2 separate regions of the Homo sapiens genome follow, and region 2 is linked to region 1. Evidence: fine-mapped expression QTL. A gene starts in region 1. The other region holds a variant in brackets. All regions are shown on one strand. Distances are from middle to middle.

The links. PIP is the estimated chance that this variant, and not a neighbour inherited with it, causes the effect.
Region 2: its variant is fine-mapped to the expression of AFAP1L2 in pancreas (GTEx, PIP 0.99).

The regions. Positions count from the first base shown.
Region 1 is chr10:114,400,797-114,409,700 of GRCh38, forward strand. It overlaps AFAP1L2 (actin filament associated protein 1 like 2), which reads right to left and starts at 3,706. Exons shown (of 19, transcript NM_001001936.3): 1 at 3,644-3,706. The coding sequence starts at 3,659. RefSeq lists silencers at 2,861-2,910, 3,708-3,787 and an enhancer at 3,741-4,241.
Region 2 is chr10:114,425,612-114,434,515 of GRCh38, forward strand. ABLIM1 (actin binding LIM protein 1) reads right to left here. Exons shown (of 23, transcript NM_002313.7): 23 at 5,501-8,904. Among named protein-coding and RNA genes, the nearest start is that of AFAP1L2, 26 kb to the left of the region's middle. The variant T/C (reference allele first, on the strand shown) is at 5,374.

The sequences.
Region 1 (8,904 bases):
ATTAAATCAGAATGTCTTGGGTGGGGCCTTTACATCCATATTTTTGAAAGCTCCACAGATGATTCCATGCACAGCAAAGGTTTAGAACTACTGCCTTAGATAGAACTTCAACACAAAAAAACCTGAGTTCGTAGGCATTGAAAAATAACAAATACAGATGATTCCTGAAGGTAGCATGCCCATCTCTTTTAATTTGCTTTTCTTTTCCAGACCTTCCCTGACCACAGATCTCAGGATTCCCATATAAACTTTGAAGTAGTATTTTACTGGATTGACTCTTTGCAGTTCATATCTGCCTCCAATGCCCTAGAGCTAAGCGGGGGGACTGGATGATCAAATTCAGAAACAAAAGAACCGCAGAAAAAGAATAATAACACTTTCAACCAATTACTGTGATCTAAATTGAAGCTGAATATCTCAACCAGGCCCATCTGTATCCAAGTATGATGCAATTTCAGGAAGCTTCGGCATGGATGTTCCAAGCACAATCCACAGATAGTAGGTCAGTCACATTTGGCCCAGACCCACTCACCAGCTGGGAGAGCAGTCAGAACCAGAATGCGTGACCACACTGGGTGAGTTCAGCCAATGGGCTCATGCACAGCGATAAAAGGATGCTCTTATGAGAGTCATAAATATGTAAACACATAAGGATGGGAACCTTCTCAAAGCACCCTGTAGGATTTGGCCCCACATCCTGACATTTGCGAGAGCCTTACTGCTTATACAACGCCAAAGAGATTCACATACAAGACATAGCCATTTTACCATCGCTATTTATGGCAACTCTCATAAAAGTGCCATCTCTCTAGGAAGGGACTCCCACATACTCCCCGATCCCTTATTTTTGCTTGGGTGAGTCATGGCTATCTAGCAGAAATCTTGGAAGGGACTGGGAAGAAAGTCTGGAAGTGTCTCTGCAACAGGCATGTCACATGGGTGATATTCCAACCACCCATCATCTCCAGACCTCACTTTACATCCTACAAGACAATGGAAAATCCACTCAGAGCCCAAAAATGATAGGCTATTTTTGGAGGATGTACAATATATATAACAAGCAGGCTAAGGAACATGGAAAGACAATTTCTCCTACATGAACTGCTTTATAAGATTTGCAAATTAGAGAAAACATTTTGAGACTCTGAAGACAGCCATGAGGCATTTCCACCTACCTGAGAGAGGGAGAGCTCAAAATTGGAAGTACAGAAACAGAATGAAGAGGCATTTAAATAACACATTTAAAAAGTGTCACACACAATAAGAATTTTTCTTTACAGTTTTTACTTAGGCTCCAGGAGCCCAACTAAATAAACCTGCTTTTTCCGTTTAACTTTGTTGTTTAAACCACTATTCCTAGTTATTCCAATAACTATTCAATCTCAACTTTAAGAAGATGGCCCCAGTCTCTGAAAAGCAAGAAGAGACTACCGATTCTAGTCAGTCACACTGGTTAATCAGAGATGGGCTTCATTTTGCATTTTGCATAGAGGAACTTTTCCATTTAAAGGGTGTTCAAAGCACAACTTATCTGCCTCTCAGGAGAATGGGGAATTCTATATCCTGGGGCTAGGGGATCCCCAAATTCCTCAGTGAAAGGTGTAGTAAACCTATTAGCAGCATGACACCAGCGAGACAAAATAAAGATTTTTCTCATGAGTCAAACACTGGAATTTGAGTTGGATTAGCCTCTGAAACCTAGATAATTCTCAGGTTTACCCACTTATCACTCTGTGTCTGGTTTACTGCAAAATGATCAGGCAGATACATGTGTTACCAAAAACATAAGCACCCTGACCTGGAAACGAAGTTCCCTTCAGTTGGCAAAAACTGATCCTCTTCGAGGGTGGGAGGATTTTAAGCTCCTGAGAGAGAAAGATAACTAAGAAGACTTTTATCAGGTCAAGGGCCAAGTCAAAAGTTATTAATACAAAAGCCTTCTGAGAATAACGGGACATTTTGAAAGACCCCAAATGTGATTTGCCCTGATTTAGAGAGATTAATATGCTGATTTGAGAAAGTAGCTTGCAACCTACAACTAACACCACCCCCACCCCCATACACACACCCCAGCTTTGCAAGTCAGGGAGCTGGAAGGCACCCCAGAGGCCAACACTTCCTGTCAGGCTCAACTCAAGGCCTGAATTCCCAGAGAGGGTCCCTCCCGAAGGGCGGAGGGGCCCCAGTAGGGGAGGGAGTGCAAACGGCCATGTTACAAGGAGCAGGACTGTGGCTTCCTCAAGTGTCTGAGACAGCATAAGCGCGCATTCAGTCATTCAAGCACAAAACTGACGTGATCCCAGTAGAATTTGAGAAGAAGAAAACCACCGGGTTAGAAATGCGAGAGAAGCTCCAGGGAGGGTTCACAGAAAGAAATCAAAGGTGGCCAACTCCTTTAACCCTGTCCCCCACGCCGGCTCCCTGCTGTCGGCAAAGACCCTTCCTGAATATATGAAGCTCTGTCTGGGACTTGGATCTTTTGCCTTCACCAGTAACCAGGCTACCCAGATGAGAAAAAGCAATGGGAAAGTGAAAGACAAGACTACTTTAGGGAAGCCGGTCCCAACAGGTCCCTTTATGTCAGTTTCAGGGATCAGAGCCCTCCGGGAGTGAGATTCCTGGGAATCTGAGCGTTCTCTTTTTATTACTCTCTCCCAGGGGAAAACAAATATAGAAGCAGCATTTCCTCCCGCAGGTTTGGCGGAGACCGGTCCAGCAAAAGAGAAGGCAAGAGGCTTTTCCAAAGGGAAGGGGTCTGCAGGAGGATGGGGGAGGGGGGAGCGCCCGCAGGGTTCCTCTTAAGGGGCAACTCCCTGTACTCCCTTTTCAAAAGAACCGCAATCGAGACTTGTAGACCAGCTCCGAGGCTCCGAGTGTGGGTGCTAAGCTGGGCGTCCGGCGCACCCGGGACGGCCCGCCCACCGGGGTTTGGCGGAGATCCTGGCCCCCGCCAAACCCAAAGCTCGCCCAGCTGCGCACTGAGCTAAGCCCTCGGGTCCGGACGCCTCCAGGAGCTCCACCTGCCGGGCACTCCATTCGGCCCCCGACCCTCGCATCCCTCCTTTCTTGGTGTGGGGGAGCAAAGAAGGGCTTGGAGAGAAACGATGACCCGAACGGCAGGACGTTTGGGGAGGCCCCACCTAGCCCGGGGAGGGTCTGCGCGCCCACTCCACTGCCCAAGCGCTTTGCCGGGAGCAGGAAGCCCCTAGCCCGGCGGGCGCCCGGGAGAAAGGACTCAACAGCCCGACCCTTTGCCCCCAGCAGCTCAGCACGGTTCCCACCTTCTTCGGGGCTTCCTCGGCCCCAGGCATCTTTCCTGTGCGGCGGGACTGAGGGTGGAGTGGGGTGCCGGGCTCACCCTCTCTCCTGCAACAGGTGAGAAGCCCCGCCACGCCCCCCACTGACGACCCCCTCCTTCCGCGCCCGGGAGGATCAAAGGGCTCGGGCCGCAGCAGCCACCTAGGAGCCCACCCGCCCAGTCCGCGGCGCCGCTGTCGCCCCCTCTTAGGCCCAGGTCCGGGCTGGGTGGGGGCAGTGGGCTCTGCTTATCCCGAGTCCTGGCAAGACGAGTCCTAGCCCTGCCCTCCGCGTCGCTGGGCGAAAGGGAGTGGGTGTGCGCCGCGCGAGGAACCCGCGCCCTCACCTTTGTACCGCTCCATCGGGGCCACGGAGTGCGCTCCTCGCGGCTCGGCTTCTGCGCTGCTCTCCCGGCGCTCGGCTCAGCGCCCAGGCCGCCGCGCTGGCCCCTCCCCGTGAGGTCACGCTCGCGGCCGGACCTCCTGGCGGGGCCGCCGCGCCCAGGGTCCTCGGACCTGGCCCCCGCCAGGGCTCGCCCCCAGCGCCCCTGTCCCAGCGCCCCTGTCCCAGCGCCGGAGAACTCCGGCCCGCCGAGGCTGACAGTCGGCTCTTGAGTCGGTGCGCGCCCGCGGCCCCGCTCGCCGCCCCCGGCCGCCTTGGCACTCCCTTCACGTCTTGACTCCGGGGGCGTCGAGAGGGAACGAGACTGGGACGTTCCCAAACTCTGGGGGAGGCTCCGGGAGGCCGGGCTTGGGTGGGCCTCCAAGATTGTTCCCACACCCCTGCCCGCTGCAAACCCAATGCCTGGAGGAGGAGACCGAGGTCCAAGCTAGGAGGTTGAGACTGGCTTAGAGCTCCTCGCGCTTGGCTCCCGAGCCAGCGCGCTTTTGCCCTAGGCCTTCCTGGAGGGGCGAGGAGGGCAGCGGGGCGGGCAACCAAACCTGCTCCGGGTTCTTTGGGGATTGCTCCCACTCTCTTGGAACCTCTCTGGGCAGCCGCTGCCAATCGCGCACACTTCAGGGTGTGTGAAAACATCTGCTTGCTGCTTTCTACCTGAATTTCCAGGGCCAACGCCACAAGTCAGGGAGTGCCGTTTCCGGGGCGCCCAGTAAACCTGACCGCCTTGGAGGGGTGGCGCCGGTTCCATAAGGAAGCTCGGCCATGGCTCTGAATCTCCACCCTGCACTGCCTCCATCCAGAAGTGCCACACTTCCATCCTTTGCCTTTTGCCACCGGTCCTTCCAGGCCCTTAATGCGACCTAGTCTTCTCCGTGCTCCCCCCAGAGATCTATGTGTTCTTTTAAACTTTTTCAGTTTTCACTTTAAAATCTCAGTCACGGTTTGTGCTGGGTGCCTGGTTGGTTACCTAAGTTCCCCAGCTTCCTTGAAGGAACAATTAAGGAAGATTTGGCAGTGGTGGTTTTCTAAAAGACTTCTTAATTCTTCCTTGGAATCGCAGATTTAGTTGTGATGTTTGGAGACCTCCCCCAACCCCTCCCAACAGCATGTAGAAATATTTTTCTTAGTTATACTAGCACCTAATGTGGATGGAGCCCTCCCCACAAGCCAGGCACGGCGCTAAGGGCTGTACATCACTGCCTTTAGTTTCCCCGATATCCCTGTGACATGGGTATTATTATGATCTCTTTCATAGAGGTGAAGAAGCTACGGCTGGGCGCGGTGGCTCACGCCTGTAATCTCAGCACTTTGGGAGGCTGAGGCGGGCGGATCACGAAGTCAGGAGTTCGAGACGAGCCTGGCCAACATGGTGAAACTCCATCTCTACTAAAAAAAAAAAAAAATAGCTGGGCTTGGTGGCAGGGGCCTGTAAACTCAGCTACTTGGGAGGCTGAGGCAGGAGAATCGTTTGAACTTGGGAGATGGAGGTTGCAGTGAGCTGAGATTGCGCACTGCACTCCAGCCTGGGTGACAGTGTGAGACTACGTCTCAAAAAAAAGAAAAGAGGTTAAGCAATTTGCTCAAAGTCACACAGCTAGAAAAGAGCGGAGCAGGCGTTAAACTCGGATCTGTCTGCTTCCAAATGTGTATTTTAATTTTTATTTTTTTAGAGACAAGGTCTTGGTTTGTTGCCTAGGTTGGAGTGCAGTGGCACAATCTTGGTTCACTGCAGCCTCAAACTCGTGGGCTTCACACTGATCATTACAGAAATGCAAATCAAAACTGCAATGAGATACCATACCGTCAGAATGGCTATTATTAAAAAGTCAAAAAATAACAGATGCTGGTGAGGTTGCAGAGAAAATGGAATGCTTATACACTGCTGGTGGAAATGTAAATTAGTTCAACTATTGTGAAAAGTAGTTTGGTGATTTCTTAAAGAACTTAAAACAGAACTACCATTCAACCCAGAAATCCCATTATTGGATATATACCCAAAGGAATATAAATGGTTCTACCATAAAGACATATGCACATGTATGTTTATTGCAGCACTACTCATAATAGCAGAGATATGGAATCAACCTAAATGGTCATCAACAGTAGACTGGATAAACAAAATATGGTGCATATATACCATGGAATACTATGCAGCCATAAAAAAGAACAAGACCATGTCCTTTGCAGCAAGGAAGAATGGAGCTGGGGGTCATTTTCATAAGCAAACTAATGCAAGAACGGATAACCAAATACCACATGTTCTCACTTTTAAGTGGGATCTAAATACTGAGTACACATGGACACACAAAAGGGAACAACAGACACCACAGCCTACTTGAGGGTGGAGGGTGAGAGGAGAGTAGGGATTGAAAAATTACCTATTGAGCACTATGCTTACTACCTGTGTGATTAAATAATCTCCACACCAAACCCCTATGACACACAATTTACCTATATAACAATTTGCACATTTGCCCTGAATCTAAAATAAAAGTTTAAAAAGAAAAAGAAGAATAATCAGAAAATTAAATATTTTTAAAAATATATTTAAGGTAAAACTGGAATGTATTGTGTTAAATGAAATAAAATATTTAGGCCAGGCGTGGTGGCTCATGCCTGTATTTCCCAGCACTTTGGGAGGCCGAGGCGGGCAGATCACCTGAGGTCAGGAGTTCGGGACAGCCTGGCCAACGTGGTGAAACCCAGTCTCTACTAAAAATACAAAAATTAGCCGGGCATGGTGGTGCACACCTGTAATCCCAGCTACCTGGGAGGCTGAGGCATGAGAATTGCTTGAACCCAGGAACTGGAGGTTACAGTGAGCTGAGATCACACCACTGCACTCTAGCCTGAGCAACAGAGCAAGCCTGTCTCAAAAATAAATAAATAAATAAAATCAAAAATTAAAATGAAATAAAATGTTTACAAACAAACCAACAACAATAAAAAAAAACCTCCTGGGCTTCAGTAATCCTCCCGCCTCAGCCTCCCAGGTAGCTAGGACTACAGGCACATACCATGACACTCGCCTAGTTTTGTTGTTGTTGTTGTTAATTTATTATTTATAAAGATGGGGCCTCCAACTCCTAGGCTCAAGTGATCCTTCCACCTCGGCCTCCCATAGCGCTTGGATTATATGTGTGAGTCACTCTGCCAGCCCCAAATATTCACAAAACTTCTTGGCACTCATAGGAAGTGCCAGGCTGTTTGTTACCATCTCATGGGGCACACAGACCAGTGAACAACACAGCACAGTGAGGTAGATGCTCTGATAAGACAGAAACACGAGGGATTCTGGGAACACACAAGAGGACACTGAAGCAGCAACGGCTGCACTGAGTTCCATGAATTTGAAGAGTGCGACGAGCTGGCTGAGTGGGATGAGTTCGAGTTAGTGAGGTGACAGGAAAGGTACAGTGAGTGCAGCTTTCCAGGCAGAAAGGACAGTGGGAACAGAGGCAGGGAGATGAGCCTTTTCAGGGTCAAACAGCTCTGTTGCTGTAGCAGAAAGGGAGAAGCCAGGAATGAAGCAAGTGAGGCTGGAAAGGTGGGTGCAGCACTGTTCCAGGGCCTAGAGTGCTGAGCTGAGGTGATTAGACAGCACTGAAGAGTGTTGGTGCCCCGGGGATCCCCCAGGGGCTGAGAGCAGGGGGAGCACAGGAGGCAGTTGTACCCCCCAGGTGAGAAGCTATGGGGTGGTGGAAAAGCCAATGGGGAAGAGAGGACTGATGGCAGCAACCTTCTGGAAGTTGTGCCTGAGCAGAGTGTGAGGGAGGAGAAGAGCTGAGGCCGACTCTGCAGTTTCCAGCAATTTGAGTGGTTAGGTGAACAGCGTCATGCAGCCCTCAGATGTGGGGCCTGCTGTGTGCCAGGTGTCTCCAGGAACTGCAGAGCATGAGCAGGGCAAACAAGTCCTGCTCTCCTGGGCTGCTTTGGGGGTGGGGATGGAGACAATGAGCAGGAAAAGAGTCACACTCAGAAGTGGCTGCAGGTTGGGGAGTTGAAGGGAGAAAGTGAAAGGCCCATGGTGCTCCCAGGGGAGTTAGAACACTGGGTCTGAGCCCTGGAGCTCAGCCCCTTACATCAGCACCCTGTTCCACGTGGGCCTGCTCAGGAGGGCTCAAGAAATAGAAAAGTCAGAGGCTGTGGCAAGAATGCTGACGTCTCATGGATAAGAGGAGAGGGAACAGCGTTCCGCGGGCCTCCATGCAAGCTGGAACTGGAAAGTGGGGCAGGACGGATGGTGTCTTGCCTTTTTGCCTTCTCTTTCTCCTTCCCTTCCTTTCCTCATATTGCAAATGGCCCGGCCTGGCATCCACCCTCTATTCTACCGGTGTCAAGAGACTATTAGCAATGGGTCCTGGTTTCCTTTCAAATTCTCAGGGCGAATCTGATGGTGTAACTCTTCCTTTTGAAGGAAGCCTCAAGTCTCTGTTCCCAGCCCTGGCTGTCAATTGGGGTCAGCAGGGCCAGGTTACAAGGTCCCACTCAGCAGCCGTTTTGCTTGAGTTGACTCTCCCACCAGGGTGGCTAGGAGCAAATTGAGCTATCTCTGTTTCACAAATGAGGAAGCAAAGAAGTTAGGTGACTCACCCAAAGTCTCAAAGGAATCTCTTTCAAAACTAGGACTCAAAAATGAAGTTTCCTGACTCCAATTTCCTGGACTTTACCATGGCCCTTAGTTCAGGCTTTCGAAGGGCTCCAACTGGACAGTTTCACCCCGGCAAACCCTTTGATAGCCATCTCCCTGAACACTTCCTGTAACCGCAGCACCCTCCCTGCAGGCTGGGGACAGCTCGATATCTCCATTTTGCCTGTCCTCTCTCCCCCTTTCCTCTCTTGCCCCAGCCCCTTTAATTACCTCTTCCCTAAATCCTCTCTAGTTTATTGATGGAGACTTGGCAAATCCCAGAGGCTCTAGACAAAACAAAAATCAATCAGAAATGTATGCAGAGTGAATTTAAAATGGGAATTCACCGCCTTTTCCAAGAACAAAACTGAAGGGAAAAAAATAAAAAACCCCACCACTTAAAACCATCAATAGGAATCTTGGGCCTCTGGAAGCTCAGCACTGTCTCCTCCTCTCCAAAACCTGGGTGCAATTTAACCCCTTGTGGCTTTGCAACGTCCACACAGGGTTCATTCACATTCCGATTCAAATTCATTGGGTTTTTGGCCTCAGGAATCAGACGATCTGGTTCCTAGCTC
Region 2 (8,904 bases), 25 kb after region 1:
AGAAGAGTTTGTAATCACAACTTCTGGCTTGCTTGCTCTTAATCTCCCTCCAGCCAGGCCCTGAGGACAGTCACTAAGTTTCCCTGAAGTGACTGTCTCCACAGAAAACTTAAGACCAGCATTTATTATACTCACCCTCCTAACAATAGAACGAAGAGAACGAGAGTACATTGAAAAGGAAATAAGTTGGTACAATAATAACATTTCTAGGCCATTTTTTTCAATGTTCAGAGGTTTCTCAAGATTGTGAGGGGAGAAAGGGAGAATAGGATACTGGTGGATTGCTTTTCCTTTAAGCAACTGTGCACCTAACTGATTCTCTCATCTCATACTTTTGTATTTTACAAGAGATAATCTCCTTGCAAATAAGGTGACACTTGAGCAGACTGCAGTGGGATGTCCCGGGGGCATTCCGAGCCTTGCCGAGCTGAAGGAAGATGTGGGTGATTTCCCATGGAGGTCTCAGCGAGGGCAGGTTTCCCAGGCCTTGTCTGACTGTGGTCTTGTGAATTAGGGCGACAGTGATAACAAATCCTGGCAAGGGATGCTTGGTTCATCACAGACCAGCTCTGCCACTGACCTGAGATCCTGGGATGTGGGGAAGGGTTCCCAAACTTGGTTGATCATCAGAATTATCTGGAGGCTTTTATATTTTGTTGTAAGATTCAACTTCCCAGCTCCTAACCCAGATCTACCCAATCAAAGCCTCTTTGTGGACTGAAGCCTGAGCTTTGGGGTTAGACTTGGGTCCAGATCTTAGCTCCTTCCCCAAGTCTCCCTTTGAGCTTGGACAAGCCAGGCAGGCTCTCATCTGTGTATCGAAGGGAGCAACATTCACCCAGGTGGCTCGTGAGGATCATAGATCACGTCTGTGCAAGTGGAAGCCATTTGATTGAAAAAATGGTTAATAAATCCGAGCAATTTACTCTTGAGTTGTATGAAGCACCTTGTTTTTATGTAAAGGAGGGGCGTAATAATTGTTTTTTTCAACAGGAGAAGCCAGCTGACCCTTGCTCTTATCTGATGGGAATGTAACTGGCATCAACATTTTCTAACTTTTCATTAAGAAGCATATGTTTTAAGACAATAGCAGGAACGAAAGAACCTATTCTTTCTGTGCCAGCATCCGTCCAGCTTAGAACAAAATGTTATTCATGGCCAGGCTCCACCTTGCTGAGAAAGCCTGGTATTTGTCTTTGTAGGCAATCCTTTTGACATCCTTAGAAGGCCTTGTGGAGACCCCAGAGAGCTGTAATTGCCTTAGGAGGAAGGTGGCATTTGGACTTGATGGGAGGGGGCTAGAATCCTACCCACTTGTCAGTGGAGCTCGCCCAGCCTTGGGTTTGCCCTTCTCAGATTAAACAAAATAATCTACGTAGAGTATTTAGCCCAGCACCTGGCACTTGGAGGCCTGCAAAGAATGTTCGCTGCTGCTGCCATCAGACCCCTCTCTTCTTAGTGCCTGGACTCAGACACCTGGGGGTCTCAACCCGGCTAGATCTGGGGCTAGAAACCCCTGAGGCTCTGCCCTGCCTCCAGCCCCTTCGGGATACTCTGGGAGGGCCTATGGCTAACATATGCTAGGGGCAAAGCAGGAACAGCCTCTGCTCTGAAGGGGAGGTTTCCTAAGCCAACTTTTTTCTTTTTATCTGATGGGAAGGGCTGAGTTAAGAGTGAGCAGCAGGGGACAGCACAAATAAATACAGAAAAACCTCTCCAGGAGCTGTGATTGTGCTCAGCACAATAGCAGGCCCTGGAGAGCAAGTTTTATCCAGTGGAGATTGGAAAGTAAAATAAATGTGGTCCTATTACCCCCTCTTCTGCAGACCCGACTCGCTACAGCCTATCCCTGAGCTCTGCCAGAGTAGAAGGGAAGTGTTTGTTCAGAGTCCTGGTCTCCTGTGGGGAAGAAGGTGCGGAAGTGAGTTCTTAGGGCTGGGGTCGAGATTCCCTGAAGTTTTGGGTGCTATTCTCCCAACCACCCTGGCTTTCTCAAACGCTGACAGCTCCAAGTCCCCGCCCTTCCCAGTGCTTTCCGGCCCACAGTGGGCCACCTCCAGCAGGGTGGGCCTGACAGACACACCCTGGCAATGACCTGTGGGGAAGAGTAGCCTTCTTCCAGCAACGGGCAAGAGGGGCTGGGGAGGATTGGTGGCTTTCTCCCTCAATACTCTCAGGACCAGCAGCTCAACTTTTACAGCCTTTGGTTGCTTTGAAGTGAGTCATACCATTGAAAAGATCTTTCTGGAACAAACACCATCTTTCATGAGAATGAGTCTCAGCTCTTCCACAGGGAGTGTTTCTAAGCACCGCCGGAGTAGGCTAGGACAATCCTCCCAACCCAGGAAAACCCTCTGGAGCAGCTGAGTCCCAACCTGGCACCTCTGAACGCTTCCAGTTTGAGGAGTCTGCCATGCTGGGTGGCCACAGTGCTTTGGGGGCACCTGTGCCCCTCTCGGCATGACACTTGCCCATAGGCAGTGTTTAGGACTGCCTCAGCCTCCCGAGTAGCTGGGACTACAGTCGCCCATCACCACACCTGGCTAATTTTTTGTATTTTGAGTAGAGTCGGGGTTTCACCATGTTAGCCAGGATGGTAGCGATTTCCTGACCTCGTGATGATCCACCCACCTCAGCCTACTCAGCCCCACTACTCAGAGACAGTCTCTCTGGGTCTGTTTCCTTAACTAAAATGGAAGGAACCTAAGGAAGTATATGAAAGAAACCACAGAAATTGTTTAGTTCGGGGCTGGGCAAACAGTACTTATTACATGGCAGCTACTTCATGAATAAAATCCTTTTTTTTTTTTTTTTTTTTTGAGACGGAGTCTTGCTCTGTCACCAGGCTGGGGTGCAGTGGTGTGATCTCAGCTCACTGCAAGCTCCGCCTCCCGGGTTCACGCAATTCTCCTGCCTGAGTAGCTGGGACTACAGGCGCCCGCCACCACACCTGGCTAATTTTTTGTATTTTGAGTAGAGACAGGTTTTCACCATGTTAGCCAGGATGGTCTCGATCTCCTGACCTTGTGATCCGCCCGCCTCAGCCTCCCAAAGTGCTAGGATTACAGGCATGAGCCACCGCGCCGGGCCTGAATAAAAGCCATTTTAAGTGCTCGTTTAGTATCATGCAGGCTCTTGTCCTGCAGGAATTCTCATAATAACCTTTTGTGGTAGGTATCATTATTATTCCTCTTTTATGGACATGGAAATTGAGGCTTAGAGAAGTTAAACAATTTGTTAGTTATACAGATAGCTATTGGTGGAGCTGAAACTCGAACCCAGGCAGCCTGATGCTATACCCTGCACTCGGCTGCTGAGTAATACTTCTGGTTATTATTACTACTAATTAGCACATCTTCAGGGGATCTCTATCTTAGACTATGCTTGGGTGGAGAGAGTGCTGTTGTTGAAGTATGTAAAAGAGGTCGTGGGATTATTTTAATCCTGGAGTATTTATATAAAGACTAGAAGGAGAATCCATGAGGAAGGCCCTGTGAACACAAACAAAATGACTAGAGGGAGGGGTAAAAAGCCCAGAGTGAAAACTAATTCATTCTCAAATGATTATTTAAAATAATACTAGTCCTTATTCAACCACCTAAGTGCTCACGTGCTATAATTTGGCAACAGTCTTTTGATGGATATTATTATCTTGTCCATTCTGCAGATGAACAAATTGAGGCTGAAGAGAGGCTAAACGGGCTCCAAGACACACAGACAGTGAGTAACCCCCAAACTGTTCATAAATGCGCCTTGGTGGTAGTGTTGGGGCTCATGGCCACACTGAAGGGCGCTGGCCGGTCTCACACTAAGAACCCATTCTGTGCAGTGTGCCCTGGGAGATTCAGAATGTGGGACACAGTCCTTGCCCTAAGAAAGTCACAGGGAATGGGATGTGGAGGATAACAGCATGGGATCTGAAAAGGGCAGACCTGGAGAATTCTAGCTCTGCTGCTCACTGGCTGAGTGATTGGGCATGTTTGATTAGACTCTGAGCTTTGGTTTCCTACCTGTATAGTGGAGCTACAATTGTCTACTTTGAAAGGCTCTCACGAGCAATATAGTTATGCCAAGCTAGGGTGCCTGGCGCTCAGCACAGAGATCTCACTACAGTTCAACTGAAGAGCAGAAACCCACGCAGCTAGCAGTTCGAGGCAACACTTGCTAAGTACCGACCTTGAGGTTCAACTAGAGGCATGCAAAGAATTACATGCAGATTGGGCTGGGCCCATTAAGACAGGCTCATAGAGAGGGTGTGAACTTGGACTTGTCTTTAATTTGGAACAAATGGAGCCCATGGGAAATTCACATGGGTAACTCCAAAGAGCTGATGGGTAGCTGTTTTTAAAGAGTCAACATTGATCATTACTTCCTTTCCCTGGGGCCAGGTCCTCTCTGCTCCACCACCTCCTTGAAGAGTTGAGCATCGTAAAGAAGAAATACCTTTGATAAAGCTGCCTGGGAGGGAGCAAGCATGGTATGTCCTGGGAACTTGCAGTGGTTTGGCAAGATCTGAAGGCAGGGTACTGGGGGAGAGGCAGCTGAGCAGTGGGTGAGGCGAGATCCTTCCACTCCCAGCAAAGGCAGTGTGAGATTCGCTGACTAAAGTCTAGCAACTGAAGTGAGGCACGGGTCAACTTCCATTGGAGAGGTGGCCACCAGAGCCAAATCCCACAGAGAGTTCATAAGGACTGGAGATGACCCCTAGCTATGGTAATTATGGACCACAGCAGGGATGCTTTCCCACGGGTGGAGGCAGAGATGAGCAGAACACAGACCTTGAGCTGAGGTCTCCCGGCCTGTTTTCCATGGTGGTGAACTAAAGATGCCAACTGTCTTGAAAACAACCTGCATCCCGCTTCCAGGGGAGGGTCATGTGAATGCCAGTGTGACTGGGTCTTGGGTAGTCTCAGCAGACACAGAGCAGAAGGAAGGCTATCGTTGGAGTGGGCCATCTTGGACATAGATCCTTGTACTTTCTGGCAAGCCTAAAATCTTGGCAGTGATGATAACAAGGAAGTTAACATCTACAATTTCTTCATGTAAAGTTTGATCATGCAGGGGATGCCCAAAATTGGAAGGATGCTTTTCTCCTACTGCATTCTAGCTTCTTACTAAAAAGTGGCCCACACTCATAGTGGCTCAGAAGCTTCAAACCTCCTCAAATCCCCAGCTTTGTCGAAATGATGGGACTATCCCTGCTGTGTCACAAACCAAATCAAACACCTATGACACAGCACAGTGTAATGGCTCTACTAAACATTTCTTTCCTTTGGACAGCTTGGTCAATATGGTCTGGGTTATTGGACACACAGTCCTGGAATATCCTGCTGTTATTTGCTGCATTTTTCCACCTGCATGATAAAAATGTAT[T/C]CCCACAGCCTTGGGTTCATTCTGATTTTGTTTTGATTATTGGAAGTTGCGTTGGTGCTTTTTAAAATGAGATAGACCTTCAAAGGGAGCCAGGGAACGAGAAATGAAACACAGGTATGGAGGCATCTACGAATAAAGCACACAACTTTATTCACGAAGTTGTGAGTATGACAGTGATGCAGAGTATATGACAAAGGAGTGCAGTGAGTGCTGCTGGCAACAGGAGCGGGGAGCAGGTAGGGATCACAGGCACAGCAGCGCGGAGCCGGCAGGGCCACCTCCTCCTCTACACACAAGCATGTGGCACTTAGCGCGCCAACACACACCTGCTCAGTTTCACAGGGAACACGACACAGCTTTTCAAAAGGAATTCTTCTAAACATTTGCTTTCATATTTCCAAAAGGGGAGGGAGGGCAGGAAGAACCACACACCTTCCAACATTTGAAAAAATTCCATAAACCCAACTTAAAATCAAAGAACTCAGAGAGCTTCAATGCGGAGTCATCAGCAACTCGCAGGAACCACACACATGATTGGACAAGTCTGTACATAAAACCCCAAAAGAACATCAGTTTTGTGGACAATGGTTTCCTCTGCTGTAAAGAAACGTATGCATATATGATCAGTAAGCAGCTCACATCTTTCTGAATGTCAAGGTCTACAGGATTGTCTCTGTCCACCTTTGGTCAATGGGTTCAGGAAGTGACTCATGGGAACTGCACTCTTAGGAGAAACACTTTTGGGAATAATTTTATTGAATAACAACCACCACTCAATTACACTAAGCTTCAGAAATTGTTGGATTTGTTTAATTTTGCTGTGTACCTATACATTGTTTAGAAAGTTTCTTTTGGCTTAAACTGACCATTTCCCCCCTTCTTTTTGAGTTTTCCATGATTAAACTTGCCCAAATAAAAACATAACAATCCATATGCAAAGCATATCTGCCACCACCTCCCACTGCTTCCTGGGCCGCAAACAGAAAAATAAACAGTGATTAAAAAAAAATGCCAAAGTGAAGGTTTCTCTTTCTTCTATCACAACATAGTTGGGTAGTTCCCTTAAAGTACATCATTGCTATAAGTTGGTATCACTGCAAATCTCAAGTCCCAAATAATCTCTTTTTCTGGATAGAAAGTTATTCAAAAGGGAGCACAAAAGAGCAAGCTTTGGGGCATACTGACAAACACTTCATTGGTTAGAAGAGAATAATTGTAAAAATCAAATAAAATTGAGGCTGGCATAGGAAGTACAGATTAAATACAGGTTAAATAGCTACCAGAAACACAGAAGAGGTGGTTAATAAAAACTGAGATTGCTTCAGAGGACACAGGAGGGTTGATGAGACAGTCTATTTTCCTTCCACCATCTTCCATGAGAGTCAGGAAAAGGGTTCTGTGAGCACCCAACCTGGAGCGGTCACCTGTCTCTTCCATACACAGGAGGATGCTAAGACCCAGTTAGCTTTAAATGGTTTTTAGAAAGACTTACCTAGTCAAAAGTGGTTAATTTGAACTTTTCAAACTTGCAAAAGCATATACATTTGATATCATCATCTGAGAAGCAATTCTTAGAAAAAAATGTTTGCTTCAATGTCTAAAGAAATCCAGTGAAAGTTTTAGAAACATTGCCAGCTAGACGTCTCCGAGTTAGAGTTGATTGATATACTGGATTGGGATGGAGAGGATGAGAACTGAAAAAGAACTGCTCCAGCCTCTGCCTCAGAAGAGGAAACTCAGCTTGGAGATGACAGAATTGGGTAGCGGAGTAGATGCTAGAGCCCATGACAGATAGAAAACTACCCCCATTTAAAAAAAAACAACAACTCATTAACTCTATCTCTTTGAGGTTTTGGAGAACAGGAAGTTTATGTGAAGTTATTGAACACGTCATATTAAGAACATTTCATAACTAACCCCAAACCAAAATGTAGATGCATAGCTAGCTGTGCAAGTTTCCCAATGCTCTTCCTATCTCCTAATAAGTCACACAGAAAGACTATGTGATAGCCTGGATTTTCTTGAAGAAATTTTAAAAGAACTGATTTTCCTATCATCATTGAGGCCCCTTTTACTTCATGCCATCATTATGCACTTAAGAGTCCCAAGGAAGTCAAATGTTCCCAAATGTAGCCCTTTACATCGGCACCAGGGAAGCCTGCCATATATACAATCCCCTTCCTAGGGTGAACAAGCTCCACCAGTTTGAGTGTGTTAATAACTGGAATTTTCATGTATAGTACAGGGTAGGGTAAAAGCAGACCAATAGCCATCTTGTGTGCTGTGACCAGGATGGACATTTTGAGGACAAGCATGCTGAGCCCAGTTTAACTAAATGTGCAGGCATTCTAGCCCACACATTCAATCTGGCAGTTAGCAGGAACCAGGTTGCCCCACAACCCATCCCTCCAGCTGGAGCCTTTTGCTGGGAAATGGAGTAGGGGGCCCACTCTGCATTATGGTTTCCAATGACCCCTCCCCAGAGCAGAGCACTACTCTGCTTGCAGATAGGAGGCTACTGGTGCTTTCTGGCAATGCATTTCTGCAAGGTGCAGTTTAAATGAACTCATATGGTACTTGATATGGAAAGAAGCTTTTTTTCTTCTCAAGTTGGATGCAGAACTGAGTTTAAAAGATACAAGGAAAGCAGGGTTTCATTAGTGGGAGCTGATTTAGGGTTCAGTTCTTTATCACTGCAATCTTAGGCAGGCCCCTTAACTCCTAGTCTCTATAAAATAAGGAAGGGGGTTGTCCCAGTTTTCAGTCTAATGTCCCCATTCTATGACAGACCCATGTCTTCTTTATGTAGACCAAGGAAGAGGAATTTTAGCAAAACTACCTGATTATGCCCATGTTTCCCAAATACCTTGATTTTTCTTATATTGACATTTCATCTGCACATGTCTGGGTGATAATTCATTAATCAATGTAAAACGTAGGGACCCTTTATTAGCTCCATAATGAAAAAAATCTCTCCACCAGCCAAGTGCTGGGACCCAGGTGGCCACCATTGTTATTGACAGGTAAGGAAGCACTGGAAATGCACCATCCTCTCCATCCCCACACTTTCCAGAGTAAAGCAAGGATGAGGACACCCAGGCATTGTGCCAAGGCTGCCATTGCAGGAGGGCACAGAGAGAGGATGGGATAGAAAAAGCATGGAATAAGCAAGAAGCCACTGAGACACCAAAGGCTAAACTGCAAACTGCAGTGTGGCTTCCAACCAAGCAAGAGCTGGTCTCATCTGCTCATGGCCACCCTGTCAGAGCCATTTGCTAAACATGTTAGTAGATCCAACACACACACACACACACACACACACACACACACACACACACACACACACGAGAGTAGTCCTCATTCAGTGCATAGCAATGGAAGGCTAGGACAATTTAGATTCCTTAGGTAAGAGCACAGGAGGATGCTATAGAACAGTGACTGTTCATTCCATCCCCCAAATGACAGCGGTGAGCCACGTGTCAGAGGCTGCAACACAGACTCAGAAACTATTCTACTTGCTTTTTTACCACT